2 linked regions of the Homo sapiens genome follow. The protein of the gene in region 1 purifies or fractionates together with the protein of each later gene. This does not show direct contact. Each region holds a gene or a part of one and is shown in the gene's direction. Other genes may lie near its edges.

What was found.
Region 2: the proteins of C22orf23 (region 1) and BTBD1 purify together in Homo sapiens (affinity purification with mass spectrometry; one large-scale study listed by BioGRID and IntAct). This does not show direct contact.

Annotation. Positions count from the first base shown.
Region 1 is NC_000022.11:37,943,399-37,947,222, reverse strand, and holds part of C22orf23 (UPF0193 protein EVG1), read left to right. Parts: intron 1-2,049; coding exon 2,050-2,181; intron 2,182-2,705; coding exon 2,706-2,806; coding exon of another isoform or gene 2,807-2,908; exon of another isoform or gene 2,909-2,976; coding exon 2,977-3,048; 3' UTR 3,049-3,824.
Region 2 is NC_000015.10:83,015,710-83,019,198, reverse strand, and holds the end of BTBD1 (BTB/POZ domain-containing protein 1), read left to right. Parts: intron 1-345; coding exon 346-492; intron 493-973; coding exon 974-1,132; 3' UTR 1,133-2,776; downstream 2,777-3,489.

The DNA of each region.
Region 1 (3,824 bases):
GGGACGCAAGCAGCCCACAGGGCAGGTGGGAAGGTAGCTAATCAAATCCCCATGCACTTTGTACCAATGCTCTTGAGCCTCAGCACATGTTGGCTTAGGGGTATTCAGGGCGCAGAGGAAACCAGTCAGATGGTCCTTTTTTTTTTATTTTTCCAGAACTCAGGATTAACTGAAATCTACCACTTCCTGATGATAGGGGCTATCAGGGCTCAATGCCACAGCCTAACCTCTCCCTGCAGCCCCTATACATAAGTTGCCACTACAGGCATCGCCGAGGCCCCAGGTTCCTGAGCTTTCTTAGCCTTGCTCTGCTAAGTTTTGACAAAACTTTTTTTTTTTTTTTTTTTTTAAAGACAGAGCCTTACTCTGTGCCCAGGTTGGAGTGCAGTGGTGCTATCTCGGCTCACTGTAACCTCCGCCTCCCGGGTTCAAGCAATTCTCATGTGTCAGCCTCCTGAGTAGCTGGGATTACAAGTGTCCACCACCATGTCCAGTTAATTTTTTTAGTAGAGATGGGGATTCACCATGTTGGCCAGGCTGGTCTTGAACTCCTGGCCTCAAGTGATCCGCCCACCCTGGCCTCCCAAAGTGTTGGGATTACAGGCACAAACGACCGCTCCCGGCCTTTTTTTTTTTTTTTTTTTGAGACAGTGTCGCTCTCATTCTGTCACCCATTCTGTAATACAGTGGCATGATCATAGCTCACTGCAGCCAGAACTCCTGAGCTCAAGCAATCCTCCTGCCTCAGTCTCCAGAATAGCTGGGACCACAGGTGTTCCCCACACCCAGCTTTTTTTGAGACGGAGTCTCGCGCTGTCACCCAGGCTGGAGTACAGTGGCACGATCTCGGCTCACTGCAACCTCCACCTCCTGGGTTCAGGCAATTCTCATGCCTCAGCCTCCCAAGTAGCTAGGATTACAGGCACCATCACCATGCCCTGCCCAGCTAATTTTTTTTTTTTTTGAGACTGAGTCTTGCTCTGTCGCCCAGGCTGGAGTGCAGTGGCACCATCTCGGCTCACTGCAAGCTCCACCTCCCAGGTTCACGCCATTCTCCTGCCTCAGCCTCCCGAGTAGCTGGGACTACAGGCACCTGCCATCACGCCGGGCTAATTTTTTTGTATTTTTAGTAGAGGTGGGGTCTCACCGTGTTAGCCAGGATGGTCTTGATCTCCTGACCTCGTGATCCGCCCACCTCGGCCTCCCAAAGTGCTGGGATTACAGGCATGAGCTACCGCGCCCGGCCCATGCCCAGCTAATTTTTTGTATTTTTAGTAGAGATGGGGTTTCACCATGTTGGCTGGGCTGGTCTCGAACTCCTGACCTCATGATTTGCCTGCCTCAGCCTCCCAAAGTGCTAGGATTACAGGTGTGAGCCACCGTGCCTGGACTTTTTTTTTTTTTTTTTTTTTAGAGATAGGATATCGGTCAGGCGTGATGGCTCATGCCTGTAATTCCAGCACTTTGGGAGGCCGAGGCTGGCAGATCGTTTGAGCTCATGTGTTTGAGACCAGCCTGGGCAACATGGCAAAACTCCATCTCTACTAAAAAAAAAAAAATACAAAAATTAGCTGGGCACGATGACGTCCACCTGTAGTCCCAGCTACTCGGGAGGCTGAGGTGGGAGGATGACTTGAGCCCGAGAGGTTGCAGTGAGCCGAAATTGTATCACTGCACTCCAGTCTGGGCGACAGAGTCAGACCTTGTCTCAAAAAAAAAAAAAAAAAAGAAGAAAAAAAGAGATGGGGGTCTCACTACATCCATTAGGCTGGTCTTGAACTCCTGGTCCTAAGCAATCCTCCCACCTCAGCCTCCCAAAGTGTTGGAATTACAGACCATACCCAAACTCTTTTCTTGGTTCTTTCCACCTCTTCCTGCCTCTCTTGACAGTACAGTATTGCTCAGGAGAACCCAGGGTAGCAGCAGGTGTACGGAAGCCCTGTCTGCATGACCAGGCACCCTGCAGCAAGCACGTGCACTTGGGAACACAGACCATGAATAAGGGCACCCTTTACAGCCTAACTAGGCCATTTCTTTTTGGCCCTACAGGGGATTTGGAGAAGGAGAAACAAAGACTCCAAAATATCTTTGCCACAGGGAAGGACATGGAGGAACGGAAAAGAAAGGCCCCTCCTGCACGACAGAAGGCTCCAGCCCCTGAGCTAGACCGATTTGAAGAGCGTAAGACTCCGACGGACCAGTCATGCTGGGGGTGGGGGTAATGTGAGGAGGGGGCCCAGAATTGGATGGAGCAGTCAGGGGATCCCTGAGGGCCAAGGGCCAACAAGTGAGAAACACTATTTATTTATTTATTTATTTATTTTGAGACAGTCTTGCTCTTATTGCCCAGGCTAGAGTGCAGTGGCGTGATCTGGGCTCACTGCAGCCTCCACTTCCCAGGTTCAAGCAATCCCTCCTGCCTCAGCCACCTGAGTAGCTGGGATTACCAGCGCCCGCCACCATGCCTGGCTAATTTTTGTATTTTTAGTAGACACGGGGTTTCACCATGTTGGTCAGGCTGGTCTCGAACTCCTGACCTCGTGATCCACCTGCCTTGGCCTCCCAAAGTGCTGGGATTATAGGCGTGAGCCACCGCGCCCGGCCTAGAAACACTATTTGACAATAGAACCACTTCCTCTCCTCAAGAGAGGCAACCCGCTGCCTGCATCCCTCATGGGAACCTGACAGCCCTCTCCTCTGTCCAGTGGTGAAGGAAATCCAGGAGAGGAAAGAATTCCTGGCTGACATGGAGGCCCTGGGACAGGGCAAACAGTACCGAGGAATCATCCTTGCTGAAATCTCCCAGGTAGGAGAAACAACCAGGAAAGTGGGGAGGGGAAGGGCCCAGCGCCAAGTGCGAATGGAAATACAGGGTCTGCTGTGGCAGGGTTCAGGGGTCAGGCTCTAGCTCACTGCTGTGACAGCTCCTCAGGTTCCTAGCCCTGATACACCTGCTTTCCCTGATGCCCTTTGCAGAAACTCCGGGAAATGGAAGACATTGACCACAGAAGGAGTGAGGAACTTAGGAAGGGTCTTGCCACCACTTAATCTGTCTCCAGAGACGGGCAGGGTAGCCCAAGCTCGACCACTGGAGTCCACTCCTCTGCCAGGCAGGGCCATCCTCAGGCCAGCCCATCCTACCAGCCTTCTGCCACGTCAGGTGGTGGCATAGCACTGCCCTGCAGTACCCCAAGGCATACTCAGCAGCCTAGCCCCTGCCCCGGAATGCAGATGGAGCCTCTGAGACTCACAGCCCCGTCCGCAGAGAAGCAAAGCCCGAGCATCCCTACTAGGACATGTGTCTAAAGGTATCCACTGGGCCTGCTTCCCACCACTTCTGACCTGTGGCCTGTTCATTTAGTTTTCTGAATTCAGGAATGAATATGATTCCTTTCTTCCTGTTTTAGGATTTACTTATTTGATTTCTTACCGCCTTAGGCAAGTATTCAACCACAATGATTAACTGGCCAATAAAACATATTTAACGTGGGTCATTACAAGCACCATTTTGTTTTCAGAGGGATAAGCTTATTTGTTCAAGGCATTAGACTTTGTCAAGCCCAGATGGTTTCTAGCTACCTGTTTGCATATTTCAAGTGGCAACGGGAACCAACCTCTTGGGCACCCCATGGCTGGCTGCTGTGGCGGGTGCTGAATTCCACTCTGTTAATGATCTCAATAAACCTCTGCAACGGTTCATTATCCCTCTGTGAAAACTAAGTCTCAACAAGATACCACAACCAAGGGCATTTACCTGGCAAGCAGTGCATTCAGGATTAAAAGTTGGCTTTAGCTTTATGTCTTTCCACTATACCCATGGCCAC
Region 2 (3,489 bases), on another chromosome or scaffold:
AATCCCAGCTACTCAGGAGGCTGAGGCACGAAAATTGCTTCAGCTTGGGAAGTGGAGGTTTCAGTGAGCCGAGACCCCAACACTGCACCCCAGGCTAGGCAACAGAGTGAGAGAGTCTGTCTCAAAAACACACACACACACACACCCACCAACAGAGTGAGAGAGTCTGTCTCAAACACACACACACACACACCACCCCCCACCCCCCCACCCCCAAGGCTAGGCAACAGAGTGAGAGTCTGTCTCAAAACACACACGCACACATTGCTAAGGGCTTTATATTATTTTCTATAGTTTGCTTTATTTGGTTTAACTTAAATGTAACTTGTCTCTTAAAAATTACAGATCATTGAATATGAGAAAAAGCAAACCCTGGGACAGAATGATACCGGCTTTAGTTGTGATGGGACAGCTAACACATTCAGGGTCATGTTCAAGGAACCCATAGAGATCCTGCCCAATGTGTGCTACACAGCATGTGCAACACTCAAAGTAAGAGTCATGCACTATGTTCCAGATGGTTTCCTCTTGAATGTTGCAGAATGTGTGTTTTAGAAGCTGAGAGTCACTGACAGCTGAGCCATTTATAAAGAGGGGGGAAAAGAAGCTGGGAGCTAAAATATTCCACTGCCTTCCGAAAAGAAGTACTTCTCCCCACAGCTCTGTTCTGAAAGAAATAGCTCTTCTTAAGAAGTAGCCCTTTGTTTCAGTAAGCAGTTGAATGTTTGGCAGAAAATAAAAGTTATTTTTGTAAAATCTTTTCACTATTCTCTAATAGCTGGGCTGTACATTCAGTATTTTTATTCATTAATTAGTTTTTTGGTAAAAACTTCATTTTTCTCTAAATGACAGCATAAAATTTTATATAGGAATGATAGTGAAATATAATGGAACATTAATCTAATTAAAACACCACATTAAACTGAGTGCTTATTAAATGAAAATTACTAAGGAACCTTTTGTTCTCATTTAGGGTCCAGATTCCCACTATGGCACAAAAGGATTGAAGAAAGTAGTGCATGAGACACCTGCTGCAAGCAAGACTGTTTTTTTCTTTTTTAGTTCCCCTGGCAATAATAATGGCACTTCAATAGAAGATGGACAAATTCCAGAAATCATATTTTATACATAATTTAGCATTATAATACATCTTGGCTAAATAATACCATACAATCTAGTGTCAAAAACATAAATGGCCACAAAAAAGTAGTTTGAGTGTTATGAATATTTAAAATTGTAAGATAAGAAACAGTTTCTTAGAGCAGATAGAAAAATGCTTATTTAAATCTTTGCATGATTTAAAAACAGATTTTCCATTTTCTTACAACTTTAAGAGAAAAGAACTGGGTTTAATGGTTTAAAAAAAAGCACAGCTTTTTCACCTTCATCTTGTATAATTTCATAGATTGGCTGACTTAGGGTCTTTCAATAGTTTGGGAATTGAAAGATTCTTGTTATATATAGCTAGTTTGGGTTTGTTTTTGTTTTAACTATTTTGAAGGTTAGGTGAGATGGGCAAATAGGCTTAACTATTTTGAAGGTTGGATGAAAAGAGATGGGTCAGTATTCCTACAGAATTCTTATTAACTCAAATAACTAAATTTCAGAAAATTAAGAAGCTGACTTTATATTTGGTGGTTTGAAGTATCTTGTTGTTAGCATTTGTAATAATGCTAAAAAAGGCCTAATAAAATGCCCAAGAAAATATTCAGTGCATTTATAGAGAAGGATATTTTGTAGTAGTATAGTAATGTGTTATGTAGTACAGTTTTAAAGCTATAAATGGAATTTTGTGTAAATTCACAAAAATGTGATATAAACAGGATCTAAGACTGGATTCCCTGTCACTAAACTGCACCACTATACCTGTCTCTCTGTGTGGGGGACACTGCTGATGATTCCCAAGATTGAGATGATGACGGTGATGACGACTGGGTGAACAGCCATCACTTCAACATTGTGATAATCCTTCACAGCAAGAAACCGAATAAAATACTAACATTTCTAACAACTGCTCTGACATTGTAAAGAGATCCAACAGAATCACTCCTGCTGAAAAATACGCTTTCTGCCACCTACACATTTCTATTTAGGAAGTAAAATTTGCTTCATGGTCATGACCCCATTAGTCAGTGTTACAGCTGTGTTGGGGATAGGAAGTATATCTGGCAGATTGATATTTATACACTTTTTTATAAAGCAGATTTTAAAATATAGTAACATCCATTTTTTTCCCTTGAAAGTGATTCTCTTATAAAAAATGAAAGTGGAGTTTAAGGTATATCAAATCGTTGTGGAAGGTGATTAAAAATCAAAATTCTTTTAAATATCAACTTAATTTTTTCTAAGTAAGATACAAAAAATTTTCATCTAAAGTAATATTTCACTTTATATTGTAAAGAAGGTAGGTATATTGGTGGCTGAGGTCTCTTGAAATTGCTAAAGGGAAATTTTTCTATGGTAATGCTCTTACGGATATAAACCTCAGTTAAATGGAATTATCTATGGGATGTGTGGTTCTGGTTAACTAAAAATTAACCAGTAAACACTCTGTAGTAACCATTACAGAAAATACTTCTGCCTTAAAAAATATGATATGCCAGAGATGAGTTAGTGTTTCTTGACGTTGGAGACCTTTTAAATGCCTCATCTGTTGTACTGAACAATTGAAACTGCATGCAGCCATAAAAGGGACAAGAAACAGAACTGTTTACTAACTTTGGGACATCCCCTGGAGTTTTTAAAAATAAATAAATATATATATATATAAAAAAAACTCTTTTATGTCATTTGCCTTTTTCTTCTAAAAGTGAATATAAACAGAATTTTGATTTGTTTTTTGTTTGTTTTTTGAGATGAAGCCTCGCTCTGTTGCCAAGGCTGGAGGGCAGTGGTGCAATCTCGGCTCACTGCATCCTCCACCTCCTGGATTCAAGCTATTATGCGGCCTCAGCCTCCAGAGTAGCTGGGATTACAGGTGCCCACCACCACGCCCAGCTAATTTTTGTATTTTTAGTAGAGATGGGGTTTCACTATGTTGGCCAGGCTGGTCTCGAACTCCTGACCTCAGCTGCCTTGGCCTCCCAGAGTGCTGGGATTGATTACAGGCGTGAGCCACCACGCCTGGCTGTCAACACCATTTTGGAACAAAGGTTCTAGTTAATTGAGGTTTAACTTAATGGGAGTAATGCAATACAAAATACAAATACCTCATTGCTGATTTAAACCAGTTCATAGGAACTGCAGTGATAACTGCCGCAGCCTTTTGTTTCTTGATCATTTCTTGTGGCCTCAGGTTTTTCTCCTGTTCTAATCAGGAGGTGGAGGTTGAATGTGGGAGAATCCAATAAATAATCTTATTTACTGTTAAGAGTGTGACTATCATCTTACAGCTGTTTATTAATAACTACCCAAGTGACTACTAGGCTCTGCAATGAGTACTTTACTACATTCTTACTTGTTTCTCACAGCATCAGTATGAGGGAAGTA